Linked DNA regions of Homo sapiens. The protein of the gene in region 1 interacts with the protein of each later gene in a pairwise test. Each region holds a gene or a part of one and is shown on either strand. Other genes may lie near its edges.

Evidence for each region. The genes of interacting proteins can lie anywhere in the genome.
Region 2: the proteins of CIBAR1 (region 1) and CBY1 interact in binary tests that used the Homo sapiens proteins (3 or more experiments, as listed by UniProt).

The regions. Positions count from the first base shown.
Region 1 is NC_000008.11:93,695,767-93,703,812, reverse strand, and holds the start of CIBAR1 (CBY1-interacting BAR domain-containing protein 1), read right to left. Parts: upstream 3,264-8,046; 5' UTR 3,166-3,263; coding exon 3,140-3,165; exon of another isoform or gene 3,065-3,139; coding exon of another isoform or gene 2,756-3,064; intron 2,590-2,755; coding exon 2,355-2,589; intron 194-2,354; coding exon 125-193; intron 1-124. UniProt on the Homo sapiens protein: Plays a critical role in regulating mitochondrial ultrastructure and function by maintaining the integrity of mitochondrial morphology, particularly the organization of cristae.
Region 2 is NC_000022.11:38,665,978-38,673,931, reverse strand, and holds the end of CBY1 (protein chibby homolog 1), read right to left. Parts: intron 5,916-7,954; 5' UTR 5,878-5,915; coding exon 5,800-5,877; intron 3,049-5,799; coding exon 2,943-3,048; intron 2,863-2,942; coding exon 2,744-2,862; intron 774-2,743; coding exon 696-773; 3' UTR 82-695; downstream 1-81. UniProt on the Homo sapiens protein: Inhibits the Wnt/Wingless pathway by binding to CTNNB1/beta-catenin and inhibiting beta-catenin-mediated transcriptional activation through competition with TCF/LEF transcription factors.

The DNA.
Region 1 (8,046 bases):
GATTACAGGCATGAGCCACCACTCTTGGCCACTACTTTGTATTTCTTATTTAAAAAAACAATTGGAAACCTCATAGTCTTTGCCAGAGTAACTCACAGTTAAGTGAGAAAATGGATTTACTTACCCGTTTCATTTTCACAATGGTCCCATAAGTTTTCAAGGGTTCAACTACTTTGGCTTCAAGTCTTTCAACCTATTGAAAATTATTAAAATTTTAAATTAGAACGTTTAACATTTTAACCTATAAATAAAAGGCTAATCACTAGAAATTGATAAGACTCAGAATCTAAACTCAAAACACATTAAAAACTGTTAAGCTGCACAGTAATAGTAAAAGTAGAAAAGCACCTGGTGAGCAAAATGACAAGAAAATGTCTCAGGTTTCCCAGGAGCTCATCCTGGCCACATCATCATCTTAGGATTACTTTTTTACCTTAAAGTAGTAGTTTAAGGGTGTTAAGACAGTTCAAATTTTAATACAGCTAACATTTTCAGTGTGTTCAGCACAGTAATGGATACTTTGCATATATTATCTCTGAACTGTAATAGCTCAACTTTTCAGAAAAGAAAATCAAAGCTGAAAGACAGAGCATCTTGGAAACATTTAAAGCAACATAACCTTGAAAAGCAAAAAAGCTTAGAGATCACTGTATTTGCTGCATTTTTTTTTCTGAGAAGCCATTTGTGAATTATCGAAGCCTACAGAACAAGATAAATGGTCTGAGTTGCTGAGCTGTCAAACTGTATGTTTCATCTCTGTTTCATTTAGAATTAAATAGTTTTTCTTAAACGTTACAGGTTTTTAAATCACATTTTGAGTAATTACTTCTTTTACAAGTAGTACTAGTGGAAGGCACTGAAGAGAGATTTTTTTTAAGGCAAGTATTTAAATATAGCATAAGAAAAATAACTCTTGGACATTAAAATTTTTTTTCTCAAGATAGGTGATGTATTCAATTGCTTAAAATGAACATTTTTTAATAGCAGGAAAAGGGCTTTTTAATGATACATATTTATATAATTGACAAATACACTTAATTTCATATTGATTTTTCTTTAGTTTCTGTAAATGAAATGTATATGAATGTTTCATTTTAAAACATGTTAGGAAAATAAAAATCGACTTCTCATCAAGTATTCAAATATTAGGAATCCTAAAATCATGGATATTCAGGACAGTTTGCTTTACACCATTTCTTATAATCCATACTGATTATTCAGTTTAAGGATTATCTAAGTCTTTTTTCTGTTCTCCTTTTTGTTGCCTACCTTTTTGTCATTGTTCATTAGGACCTCCACCATTTGGTAAGCAAGGGAAATAAAAGGAGAACAAATGCAAATCAATTCACTTTGCTATTTGATAAATAGCACAAAGGTTTTCTACAAAGGGGCATTGAAATTATTGGCTAAAATAAGATTTTAGGATTACCTGTGAATATAAATTATCTTTGAAACATTAAGTCCCCAGTTATCATATATAATTGAGAGTTACTTGTTTATTACAGAAGTTTCATGACAAGAACTCCACATTTTTCCAAAAGTACCTCCAAATATGATTACTCTTCAAATTTGTATGGATAGCAATGATGAGTTCAATTTTTTTTATACTCATTCTGTTTTTTGAAAATTGAAATTCCCGTTTTAGGTTCTGAAAAGTATAAAAAAGCAACGCAGTTCTAACTGGGCAACTTCTGATAAGTTAACCTATGCCGTGAAACTGAAAATAAATACAAGTAAAAGTGCTTATTAAGTATTTAAAGGAAAAATATGGGCTTTTAGAAAGAAAACAATCACAAGGACACTTCTCCTGCTACCCAGAGCAAAAAGTCCACACGGTGTCTCAGTATTGGTTTGCTTCCATGATACAATTCATAGCATTTTGTTGTTGTTAGTAAACCATTGGTCAATTTTCCAAACCATGGATGCAGCAATGATGTCTTACCCATTTATTAATAATTTATCCATCCACATTACCATTCCCAACATTTCCATCTCCAGTCATTCTTTAAAACGTACTTATGTGCCACACAAGACATTAAGTTATGCTTATTTTCTTCCCCCTGGGTACTATTCCCACTACCCCCAGTAAACAGCCACCCCTTGGCCAAAAGTTGGCAAATAAAGTGGGGAAATTCAAGACCTCAAGATGCCCTAAAGGTTAGCTTGAAAAGGGTAAAATAAAACACAGAACGCTTCTCTTTAATAGACTCACACAGTCTTATGAAAATGTACGTTTTATCAAGTTTGCATCCACCTCTGCAGTTAGGTAGATTACAAGTGAAAGTTTCCACGGTTCCTTCATCCACTACTTCATGGCTCATTCATAACAATGACACTGTGATCTCACTCCATACCTCTGCTTGTCGATAATCCTGAAGTTTGGCAAACTCATCTGCAAAGTTCATCAGGCCCAGCTTTAAATGCGGGGTCTCTGTAGCAGCATACGCGTTAATTTCATTCACCAGGAGGTCTGCTTTGTCTCTCAGCCTGGCAGTTTTCCGCACATAGGCAGCGAAGATTTGGCACAGTTCTCCAAAATGCTTCTCCACATTTGAGACAGCTGTTTGCAGTTGTTTCGTTTGAGCGTTCCTAGGGAAAAGGTGACACAAAAGGCAAAACATTCTCGTTAGAGATGAGAAGGCTTCACGTTAATTTAACATGCAAACATTCCCCGGGCATTCTGCAGCTTTGAAGGCGTAAACCCATCAACGACCCAGCGTCTCCCGGCGCGGACTGCTCTCCATGGGGTCCTGACCTCACTATCCGGACTGTGTAGGCACAGGAAAAGGCCCAGGCCGGGTGGGCCTGGCCTTAACTGGGGAGGTGGCTGCTCCGGCTGCTCCGCGCAGCGCGGCCTGGGCGCCCGGCTGCCTCCTAGGCTTCCGCACTGCCCGCGGCAGTGTGGGGACCCGAGACCCGGTGGCGTGGGTGGGTGGCAGCCGGCCGGGCCCCGGGCTCCTCTTCGCCGCCGGCGGTGGCTGCAGCCCAAGGAATTAGGCCCCAGGTCACAGCGGGGACCGTGCAGCCTCCCACTCAGGGTCGGAATTCGGCGCAGAGGCCCCATGGACAGAGGCTTCCACTTCCCTCACCCCAGCCCTCCAGTGTGGGCGGCCCTGGGCAGCTGGGCTCGGGCTGTTACCGGTTTTCCAGGGTGCGCCTCATCATGCTGCCTCGCGCACGGCCGGGGACCTTGCGGGGGCCCAAGGACGGGGATTCCAAGGCGCCTGGGCGCGCGCTGGGGCGCAAGCAGCCGCCGGGAGCCTGAAAGCCCGCCCCTCGCGCCGCCGCGGCAGGCCGGGCGTTTCTATGGAAACGGGGCGCGCGCCCCCGCGGTCAATGCCCGAGGCAGCCTGAGCGCGGCTGGGGCTCGGAAAGCGCCAAGCAGGCAGGGACCGAGAGGGGTGATGGCGCGCCCACCCCTGCAGAGCCGCCTGCGCGGTTGTCCCGCGCGTCCCTGCCGGCGAAGGCTGTGAGAAGCACCGCGGGGCTACGGCGCCTCCATCCTCTCTAACAGCCGCGCTTACCAGACAGCCAGCCTCCAGCGCTGCTAGGCTACTCCGAGCAGGGGAGAAAAGACGCCGGTCCGCCGGGGACCAGGAGGGAGACGTGAAACCAGAGGCCCGGGGGCCCCCTCTCCGCCTGTGCGACTTGTAGTCTCGTACCAGACGCGTCCGCTTCACTGCTGAATCTGAAAACGTGGGCTCTTGAGAGCTGCCCTTGGAAGGAGCTGTGCTTTCTGCCTCATCTTTAACTTTTCGTTTATTCAGCAAATATGTATCAAGTTCCGACTTCGTGGAAGAGATTGTGTTAGACACTGGGAGTAATAGAAACATAATTAAGAAGCAGGGGTCCCGGACCTGAAGGGCCTGAGCGTCGGGTAAGGAGGCAACGCTTACACCGAACCTGTGCTGAGATAAATAACGAACAGTTCTGGCTCTTAGAGTTGGCCTGGGGGAACAAAAATTCAAAAAGAATAAAACCCCAAACAAACAGGAGGCTCTCCTTTGTCCTTTGAACGCCTCTGTCCCTTTGACCCTCCTGGCCTTGCGTGTGCTGCTTTTCCCAGTAAATACTGCAAGGACTCTATTCAGACTTTGTTTATTTATATATGTATTTTAGATGGAGTCTCGCTCTGTTGCCCAGGCTGGAGTGTAGTGGCACAATCTCGGCTCACTGCAACCTCCGCCTCCTGGGTTCAAGCGATTCTCCTGCCTCAGGCTCTCAAATAGCTGGGATTACAGGCGTGCACCACTATGCTGGCCTGATTTTTTGTATTTTTAGTAGAGACGGGGTTTCGCCATGTTGGCCAGGCTGGTCTTGAACTCTTGGCCTCAAGTGATCCGCCCCCCTTCAGCCTCCCAAAGTGCTGGGATTCCAGGCGTGAGCCACCGGGCCCGGCCTCAATTCAGACTTTATCTGCTTCAAGAAACCTCTCTGGGATCCTCCGTCACTTCACTTTTTCAGGCAGCGTTAGGGCCTTGTCCTAACGCTTTGGGACGGGGTCCTAATACTGTCTGAAGGAGCGAAGTGTTGGAATGCTCAAACAGTACACTTCGTTGATTTTGTACTGCCTCCTGTACCCTAGACTTTGAACCCTTTGAGACAGATTAAATGTGATTTTGGTCTTGTATTCCTCGCTGCCGTGTGCTGCTGATTAAAAGTTTTTATTTTGTACAAATAGATGTCCTCAGTCCTTTGTTTTGAACTTCCCCTATTCGCTTGTGTTACAATGTGTATCTCTCTTTGCTCCTTGCATTCGCTCAGCATGTTATTGGTTGGATGCCTGGTGTGTTCCAGGTATTATGCTTGGCTTTGAGGTTGGCACAGTAACCTAAGGTCAGAATAGTCTGTGCTTTTAGAGAGCTCACAGTTATGTGGCAGTGATAGAAGCTAATCAAAGATGTGTAAAATTGCCACTGAGGTATGTGCTACTGTATCCACTTTTGCAGTGTAACAAATCACCACAAAACTTAGTGACGTTTTACAATCGTTTGGTTAGCTTGGGATTCTGAGTGAGCTGGGTGGTTCTTTTACCTTGGTTCTGCTCAGCTGGGCTCTTACTCACCTTTCTGGTCAGCTGGCGGCTGGATGATCTAAGAGGCCTCACTTCTGTGTCACGGCATTGGCAGGTCGTCAGCAGGGGCCACGTGTTTCTTATTGTCTAGCACCTCAGCCAGGCTTCTTTCCATGGTTTCAGAGTTCCAAAACAGTGGAGCAGGACAAGTCAACTGCACAAGTGCCTTTCAAGTCTCTGCCTATGTTATGTTTGCTGATACACTATTGGCGGATGCAAGCCATGTGGCCTAGACTAGAGGGATCAGAGTGAGAGGGCAGTGGAAATGTTACGGATGGTGTGGTTGGTAGAGGAATTGGTGGCTACTTTTCCAGTCTACTATTAGGGGAAACTACATGGCAGCAATTGAGTGTATACTTAATATAGAGGTTTGGTTTGAACTCATCAGGGAAGGACTTCATTGAGAAAGTGACATTTGAGCTGAGATCCAAAGAATAGGAAGGAGTCAACTAGGTGAAGAGGGAGTGAAAAACAGTCCCAAGAGAAGGACAGTATGAGCAGTTTGTCCCCTTGCCCTCCCCCAGCCCCATTCCCATCTCTACCCAGAATTTCATATCTCAGAAAATGATGCTATTGCCCAGTTGATTGTTCAAGTCAAAAACTTAGGAGTTACCCTTTCTTTTCTCCAGTCACATGGGCAATTCCTATCTGTTCCATCTCCAAAATATATCCTGAATCATTCTTCATTTTTTTCTACATCCCCATAATCCAAACTGCTACCACCAATCATCCTTACTGCAAACCTCCCTTACTAGTCTCCCCATGTCCACTGTTAAACATCGCAGTGTGAAATCAAACATTAAATCAGATGATGTCAACCCTCCAAAGCCTCTCAGTGTGCTTCAAATAAAAATTTAAATCCTATTCTGGCTATTAAGGCTTTATCTCATTTCCGCTTACCTATCTACCTTCTCTTGCTGCCCCACTGTGCTATAGACACATGCCATATGTGTGTGTGTGTGTGTGTGTGTGTGTATATATATATACACACACACACACACACATATATATGTATATAAGCTTCTCTCTCTCTCTCTGTGTTTATCTATAGATAAACTTATCTCACAGTTAGTTCTGTGTTTGTAATTCTCTCTGCCTGGAATGCTCCTTCTTCAAGTCCTCACATGGATGGCCCCTTCATATAAAATTGTACTTAAAAAACACCTATGAGTGGGGCTTTCTCTGATCACCAAATGATTCTTTCACCCTGTTTTGTTTCCTTTGAAGCACATGTCACGTCCTGAAATTAACCTGTTTATTTACATGCTATTTCTGTCTTCTCCCATCCACGTACTAACCGGGCTGGACCTCACTTAGCTTCCAAGATCAGGCATGTTCAGGTATGGCTGTAGATCTATTTCTGTCTTCTGTGACTAGAACATATTCTCCATGAAACTAGCCACATTGTTACCTGTTCACTTTATATTCCCAGTACAACCTCAGTGCTTGACTCATAGTAGAAATTCAATAATTAGTTGAGTTTATCAATGAATAAATAAATAAATGAGTGAAAACCCCATGACAGAGGAAACACAGTATGTGTGAGGACATGGAAGAAAGCTGATGAGGGTGGAGTGGAGGAGGTGGCATCATGTTCTGTCTGAGATTTAGTTGGAGGGGTAGATGGAAACCAGGTCGTATAGGGCATTTTGGCCATGCTAAGGAGTGTAGAGATTGGTTCTTGTATTAGTCAAGGTTCTTTAGAGAAACAGAACTAATAGTCTGTGTTTGTAAATATAATATAATATAATATAATATAATATAATATAATATAATATATAATATATTGTATAATTTTATTATAAGGAATTGGCTGAAGTAATTATGTAGGCCGAGAAGTCCCAGAATCTGCAGTTCACAAGCTGGAGACCCAGGAGAGCCAATATGTCATTTCAGTTCAAGTCCAAAGGCTGGAGAACCAGAAGAGCTGATGGTTTATTTCCTGTCTGAAAGCAAACAGGGTGGAGACCCAAGGAAAACAGATGACTGAGTCCTACTGGGAAGGCTAGAAAAGATGACGTCCCAAGTCAATCAGTCTGGTGGGAGCAGTTTCCTCCTACTGAGACTTTTTTCCTATTCAGGCCTTCGATTGACTGGATGAGGCCTGCCCACATTAGGGAGGGCACTCTCCTTTATGCAAATTTTAGTCTCATCCGTAAACACCCTCACAGACATGCGGAATTATGTTTGGTGGAATGCCTAATGACACATAAAATTAACCATTACAATCATTGTCTTTGTATCAATGTGAAGCTATTGATGTGTTAAAGCAAGTTATTTATTGTGTAGCTCTTTTTTTTTTTTTTTTTTGAGGTGGAGTTTCGCTCTTGTTGCCCAGGCTAGAGTGCAATGACGTGATCTCAGCTCACTGCAACCTCCGCCTCCCGGGTGTATAGACCGGGTTTCTCCATGTTGGTCAGGCTGATCAGAAACTCCCGACCTCAGGTGATCTGCCCGCCTCAGCCTCCCAAAGTGCTGGGATCTATTGTGTAACTCTTAAAGCTGTTAGCAAATGCTTGGTAAATGGTATCATAATTGTTGAACAGAAGCATATTGAATTATCCCTCTTCAATCTGTACTCAATATATGGAAATGAAAGTGCTCAAGGAAATTTCCTCCTAAGATACGGGCTCTTGATTTTACTCTTCTGTCAACAGATATCTAAAAAACATGCATTAACACAATTGTTCTCAAATCTTTTTACTACTTGGAGGCATGTTCTTTCTTATAGGCTATACTTTTTCCAAGGACACATTATCTCATCAAAGAGGAGCTGGTGGCCTGGGAGGACAAGTGCCTTGGCCAGAATTGCATGATTAGATAGCAGAGGTGGAACTGAATCTTTGTCTTCTTTCTTCAATGTTCTTTCCAGAGTACCAGGATCTCTTTCTCTCTTAAAAGTGATTTTTTTTTTTTTTTTTTTTTCAAATCAAAGCCACAATGCAATACCACCTTATTCCTGCAAGAATGGC
Region 2 (7,954 bases), on another chromosome or scaffold:
TGAGCCACCATGCCTGGCCAGCTCCATTTACTTCTTGAGAAACTCATGGTTCTCTTTTTAGTCACTTTGGTCACAGAGAGATTATTTAACATCGTTTAATAAAAAAGTAGTAGTGCAAACAGGAAAGTAGCATAAAAATATAGTGTTGTTGTGGAAGGCTGGTGCTTGCTGCTGAGAAGCTGAAGCCAGAGGAGGCCAGGTGTGAGGAAGGAGGATTCTTTAAAGGCAAGAAGAGAGAGGCCTGCCTTTAAGAGCCAAGAGAGCCGCTCATCCATGACCCCAACACAGAGCTCTGTAGAACTGCTGTCACACGCCAAACACCAACATAAGGGGGTGAGAGAATGAACTCCAGCCGCTTCTCCCAACACAACCCAACAGAGCTATTCTGGGACATGTGTGTTTGCGAGCTTGTGTGTGGAGAGCACCAAAAAGCTCATCAGCAGCCCCAGGCCTCTGTGCGGTCTGGTTTTCAGACTGGCACCCGCAGGCAGTGCATCTGAAGCACCTTCTAGTTACTATCCCCATCTGGAATCTTGGTTTTCTCCATTCCATGTCACCTTCTATTGCCAACCCAAGGGTGCCAGTGCCTGTGGGTCTCATTATATGATACTCTCTTCCAGGACTGAATCCGCTAGTCTGGCCAAAAAAAAAGCACTCAGCCACATCCTACTCCCCAATAAATGTCTCTGGGGTCTTCATTTTCTCTTCCGGCTGATCCTCAGTTCATCCAGTTCCTTCTCCATTAAGTGGGATTCAGCAGTGGACTCTGAAAGCTGAAAGTGAAGCAGCGGCTGTTAGCAAGCAGCACATTTCTAGGAAATGTTTCGGGTTAGCAAGGCCGGCCCTACACACGGAGGAAAGGCCCCCTGCCACTTCTCTGATGCTGCTGGCTTCCTCGATGGGAAACCCTCTGTAACTGGGTAGAATGCAACCCCTGATGACCCAGGACCACAAGTACTTGAAGAATATTCACAGTCCACTCTGTCAGCACGCTGTCACCCACGAGGGCATGGCACTCCCTGCACGAAGGAGAGCAGGTCTCAGAGGACGTCAAAGGCAGATACTGGTGATTGTAAGGCTAAGGGATTAGAGCTGAAATTGATTCTAAGCTGTAGCTCCCATAATGGGGATGAGGGGAAAAAATGCTAGAAATAGAATGCCACTTTCCTCCTTAGGGTTTTTTTGTTTTTGTTTTTTGGTTTGTTTGTTTTCTGAGACACGGTCTCGCTCTGTCGGCCAGGCTGGGTGCTTTTCTTGTACTAACTCACTATGAGGTAGATACTACGATTATGCTCATTTTTAAAAAAAAACATCCAGGCCGGGCGTGGTGGCTCATGCCTGTAATCTCAGCACTTTGGGAGGCCAAGACAGGGAGATCACTTGAGGTCAGGCGTTGGAGACCAGCCTGGCCAACATGGTGAAACCCCATCTCTACTAAAAATGCAAAAATTAGCCAAGCGTGGTGGCGGGTGCTAATCAGGAGGCTGATGCAGGAGAATCACTTGAACCCGGGAGGCAGAGGTTGCAGTGGGGCAGTGGGTGGAGATCATGCCACTGTACTCCAGCCCAGGCTACAGAGCGAGACTCTGTCTAAAATAAATAAATAAATAAAAATAAAAATAAAAAAACATCCAGCCTAAAATGTCAGTCTTTTTCTTTTTTTTTTTTCCAAGATGGGGTCTCACTCTGTTGCCCAGGCTAGAGTACAGTGGCGCGATCTCAGCCCACTGCAACCTCCACCTCCCGGGTTCAAGCAATTCTCCTGCCTCAGCCTCCTGAGTAGCTGGGATTATAGGCGCATGCCATCACACCCAGCTAATTTTTGTATTTTTAGTAGAGACAAGGTTTCACCATGTTGGTCAGGCTGGTCTCGAACTCCTGACCTTGTGACCCGTCCACCTTGGCCTCCCAAAATGCTAAGATTACAGGCATGAGCCATCATGCCCAGCCTAGTCCTTTTTTAAAAAAAAAAAAAAGATGGCATCTTACTTTGCAGCCAAGGCTGCTCTCAAACTCCTGAGGTTAAGCCATCCTCCTGTCTTAGCCTCCCAAGTAGCTGGGACTACAGGGGTGCACCACCACAATTAGCTATTATGCCATTTATTGCTGAAGAAATTAAGTTACAGAGCAGTTAGTCAGTAGCAGAGCTGGGTGAGGAACCCAGGCCATTTTGCTCTGGAGTGTGTGCTCTTAACCACTACAGTGTATGCTCTCCTGCCTCTGAACCTTCACAGGCTCCTCTAGGCCCAGTGGGTTGCTGGATTTTTAACAGCCACAAGAAACCAACACTAATGCAGTGTGAGCCCCTCAGCTGGTCTGTACTGGGCACTGATTAATGCCTACTTGGTATGAGACACTTCCAAGCCATGAGCCGGCTCTACCCCTCTTCCTGGAATGCCTTCATCTAACCTCTATTCCTGCCATTATCCTTCCACATTCAGCTCAGATATCCCTTCCTCTGGGAAGCTCTCCCGACTTGACAGAAATAACTTCTCCCTCGTGTGCTGTGCAGATCCTGTGCAGACTCCAACTGGGTCCTTATGTAATTATGCTTACGGTCGGTCCACCTGCCTCTACACTGTGAGGGCAGGAACTGTGTCTTGTTCCTTGCGTGTGGCTTTGGATGCAAAGCAACGTACCTGGCCAAACTGGCATTGAGGAGATATCTGTTGGATTAAGTGACTCGAGGTGGAGCCTCCCCAAAAGGAGAAGCTAGGCCTCTCTTCCCCATCACCTGCCTCACCATGTCTAATAAGATGTCCACTTTCAGCCGCAAGAGATTGTTCTCTTCCTCCAACTGCTGGTTCCGCCTGCGAAGGCGCTGAACCTCCCTCCGGTCCACACCGCCACTAACCCCTGTCTCTGGAGGAAGGACAGAACCAGTTAAAGGGGGATTTCCTCCTACAATCTTGTTTGACAAAATGGCAGGAAGTGCAGCTCACCTGCTATCCACTGGCCATTTTCAAACTTCAGGCTTTGCCCTGCCAGGTTCATAGTCGGGGATCCGTATTCCAAGCCCAGCTCCACCTCCCGGGTTGATCGATCCAACTGTGGGCGAGATGCTATGTGACAACTTCAGCAGGCCCGGAACACGCCTTCATCCCAGCTCCTCTTCCGCCAACAATATGACCCCAACAACTCATTTCTCTAATCATTACTTGGCACCTTTAATGATTTTTTTAAAGCCATAAAATCAAATGATGTACAGGAAAAGTTTAATTGTGAGATAAAAAATATACTGTTTTATACATTAGATGTTTTCCAGAAAAGCTATATATACTGAAATTTATAAATTGAATTATTTTATACCTACTTGACACTTAATAGTTTAAGCAATCCTACTATAAACTGTTAATCAAGTGAAAAATTCTTTTTAAATGTAATAGTCCCCCAAGTTATCATTTGCTTAATATGGAGCTACATATGTTGTGGAAAAGACATAAAATTCTAACAATTAGGAGGAAGAGGAGTTGCTTCTTAACGTGCGACAGTACAATTTACATATTCTATTCTTTTCTTTTCTTTTTTTTTTTTTTTGAGACGGAGTTTCGCTCTTTCACCAAGGCTGGAGTACAGTGGTGCGATCTCAGTTCACTGCAGCCTCCGCCTCCCGGGTTCAAGTGATCCTCCCATCTCGGCCTCTGAATAGCTGGGACTACAGGCATGCACCACCATACCCGGCTAATTTTTGGGGTTTTTTTTGAGACGGAGTCTCACTCTTTCGCCTAGGCTGGAGTGCAGTGGCACAATCTTGGCTCACTGCAACCTCTGCCTCCCAGGTTCAAGCAACTCTTCTGCCTCAGCTTCCCGAGTAGCTGGGACTACAGGCGCACGCCACCACACCTGGCTAATTTTTGTATTTTTTAGTAGAGACAGGGTTTCACCATATTGGCCAGGCTGGTCTCGAACTCCTGACCTTGTGATCCGCCCACCTCAGCCTCCCAAAGTGCTGGGATTATAGACGTGAGCCACCGTGCCCGGCCTAATTTTTGTATTTTTTAAAGTAGAGTCAGAGTTTCGCCACATTGGCCAGGCTGGTCTCAAACTCCTGACCTCAAGTGATGCGCCCACCTCAGCCTCCTAAAGTGCTGGGATTACAGGCATGAGCCACTGCGCCTGGCCTAGATATTCATTTCTACAACTCACTGAGCACCCACCCCGATTCGGGACTCGGTACTGGGTATCCAGGGATGCGTATGACCAGCTCTGCCCTCAATAGCGGCTCAACACAGGGAGACCTTCAGGTAAGTGCTCAAATGTCCCTTTCTCAGTTAGGCCTTCCTGACCACCCTGTTGAAAATGAAAGCTCAGTCCCCAGTGCTCAGCCACACCCCATCCCAGGCCTATGCTTTGTTTTGCTGTCTGGCACATATCACCATCTGATATAAATTTGCTTATTTTCTGTAGCCTTCCGTTAAAGTATCTGCCCCATGAAAGCAGGGATTTGATGTTTTTCTCTCCCCTCCTTCATCCACTTCTGCATGCCCAGTGCTTAGGAGAGTGCCTGGCACATAGAAAGGTATCAATCAATAGCTCTTTAATTAATCTATTCTAGATTCTAGAATTAAACATTCTAGGCAGAAGGAGTAGCGTGCGCAGAGGAGGTTCACACGGGGCTTGGGCGGCTGCAGCACAGGGTGTGCAGAGGGCAAGGGCAGGAAGGAGAGCTGGAGTGAGGCCACCAAGGGTCATTTGTGCTGCTCCCAAGATCTGGGTGGTTATCCTGTAATAACGGGGAACTAATAAAATCCACCAGTGACCATATGGAGCGCTGTGGAGGCCTTACAAGTACCAAGGCTTACAAGTACCTGTCAGCATGTGGAAAACAATGTAGGGGAGGACCGACTTCAAGTCACGGTCAGAGACAGACGTCATGTAAGCACACTGCTGCTCTTACGCTGTGTGGGATTAGGACAGAGGATGTCCTAGAGGGACCGCCAGGTGTATCTGCATCTCTCACACATGGCAGAGAGGAAAGGGAGCCTCAGGCCTAGGGGCACCAGAAACTGAGATCCTAAGCCTCTGCCTGGCCTGCTCCACAGAATGCCCAGCTCTGGCCACAGTGGGGCTGCCCCCACCATGATTTTCACTGGGAACAGGAGACAACAGACTCTTAAGACCTGAAACCTGTAGTGAATGCTCAGCCCCCACAGCCTTGTTGTTCAACCCCACTCGCCTTCTGTGAAGACATGGCCAGTCTGCATAGCTAGCTCTGTAGGAAAAGGTCACAGAATAAAGTAGAAGTCAAATTGGATGATACTGGCTGGGCACAGTGGCTCACACCTGTAATCCTAGCACTTGGGGAGGCCAAGGCGGGTGGATCACCTGAGATCAGCAGTTCGAGACCAGCCTGGCCAACATGGTGAAACCCTGTCTCTACTAAAAGTACAAAAATTAGCCGGGCATGGTGGCGGGCAGTTGTAATCCCAGCTACTCAGGAGGCTGAGGAAGGAGAATCGCTTGAACCCGGGAGGTGGAGGTTGCAGTGAGTCAAGATCGCGCCACTGCACCCTAGCCTGTGGGACGGGAGTGAGACTCCATCTCAAAAAAGAAAAAAAAAATTTGGATATTTGGGGTCAAATATCATAATGAGATTGTCTTCTTAGGTTCTTGGATAAACAAGCTCTGACGATCATTCCCAAACAAGAGTTCAAAAATGTTTTCCGCAATAGCAATGATATGGACGGAAAGGATGCCCTCCTGCACTGATGCCTCTGGAGGACCACACTTTCCATTCAGAGACACGCTCAGCACTCAACTCATGCTGCACACCCGGCCGACCCCAGTACCGACACTCACAGAATGCAGGTTGGAGAGAGATGCCGACTTCCGAGGAGGTGTCTTCTTCGGACTGAACGTATTCCCAAAGAAAGGCATCTTTGGCCTGATGAAAGCAAAGCCAGTGCTCCCTTCTCCTAGGGTCAGAAAAAGTCAGGGGTACAAGCAGCTGGATCACTGACCTTATGCCATTGTCTTCAAATCTTGAAGACATACATTTTATCATGTGGCTACTAACGATCCTGGTGCTATGGTTTGAATGTCCCCACCAAAACTCATGTTGAAATTGAATTGCCATTGTTTAACAGTATAAGGGGTGACTGGGCCATGTGAGCTCTGCTCTCATGAATGGATTAATGCCATTGTCATGGAGTAGGTTAGTTTTCTCTGGCGTGGGCTCCTGGCAAAAGGATGAGTTCTGCTGCCATGCTGTCTGTCTCATGCACTTGCTCACCATGTGAGCCTTCTGCCTCACACAGGATGACCCTCACCAGATACTTGCACCATGCTCTTGGACTTCCCAGTCTCCAGAACTGTGAGCCAAATAAACTTCTTTTCTTTATAAATTACCCAGTCTGTGGTAATCTGTAACAGCAGCACAAAATGGATTAAGACGCCTGGTAATAGCTCCCATGTGCTGAACGCTCCCTTTGTGCTACGCGGTATGCTAAGATTTTTTGGGTGGCACACAGTGGCGCATGCCTGTAGTCCCAATTACTTGGGAAGCTGAGGCTGGGGGGTCGCTGGAGCCCAGGGAGGTTGAGGCTGCAGTGAGCTGTGGTCCACTGCTGCTCTCCAGTCTAGGCTACAGAATGAGAGACCATGTCTCAAAAAAAAAAAGTTAGCCTGGCATGGTGGCACACAACTACAGTCTCAGTGACTCAGGAGGCTGAGGTAGGCAGATCACTTGAGCCCAGGAGTTTAAGACCAGCCTGGCCAACATGGCAAAACTCTGTCTCTACAAAAAATACAAAAATTAGCCAGGTATGGTGGTGCGTGCCTGTAGTCTCAGCTATTCAGTAGGCTTAGGTGGGAGGATCACTTGAACCTATGAGTCTGAGCCTCCAGTGAGCTATGATCATGCCACTGCACTCCAGCCTGAGTCAAAGAGCATTACCCTGTCTCTAAAAAAAAAAAAATAAAGAAAGAAATGGCTGGGCACGGTGGCTCATATCTGTAATCCCAGCACTTTGGGAGGCCGAGGCGGGCAAATCAAGAGGTCAGGAGTTTGAGACCAGCCTGGCCAACGTGGTGAAACCCTGTCTCTACTAAAAATACAAAAAATTAGCTGGGCATAGTGGCGGGTGCCTGTAATCCCAGCTAGTTGGGAGGCTGAGGCAGGAAAATTGCTTGAACCCAGGAGGCAGAGGTTGCAGTGAGCCGAGATTGCGCCACTGCACTCCAGCCTGGGTGACAGAGCAAGACTCTGTCTCAAAAATAAATTAAAAAAATAAATAAATAAATGAGTAAAGCTATGCTTATATTTCCTTTCCAGATTGATAACAGTGCTCCTCACTTGTCACCAGTGTCACTTGTCAACAGTGCACCTCATATGTCACGTTACCTGTTCTGTTATGGAAGGTGACGTGAGGTGTCCTGAAAAGGGGGCAGGTCCACGACATGGCGGAGCTGACAACAACACCCCCCCAACCTGTACATTTGCTTTTAGCATAATGCAACCTATTGCAATTCACCTAGGCCTAGTTAAGTAGATTTCCTGATAACACCCTGGTTTTTGGGGAGAAAAGGAGGGGAGAAGCAAACTTTTTATTTAGGCTGGGAGCAGTGGCTCACACCTGTAATCCTAGCACTTTGGGAGGCCAGGGAGGGAGGATTACTTGAGCACAGGAGTTCAAGACCAGCCTGGGCAACTTAGCAGGGCCCGTCTCTACCAAAAAAAGGTTAAAAAAGAAAAAAAAATATATATATATATAACATTAATACAGAAAAGTCTACCACAAATCATAAGTGTAAGGTTTCATGAGTTTTTACTACACAAGTATAACCACCCTCCAGGGCCAGGCGTGGTGGTTTATACCTGAAATCCCAGCACTTTGGGAGGCCAAGGTGAGAGGATTGCTTGAGCCCAAGAGTTCAAGACCAGCCTGAGTGACACAGCGAGACCCCCATCTCTAAAAAAATTAAAATCAAGTATTTTTTAAATTTTATTTTTTAT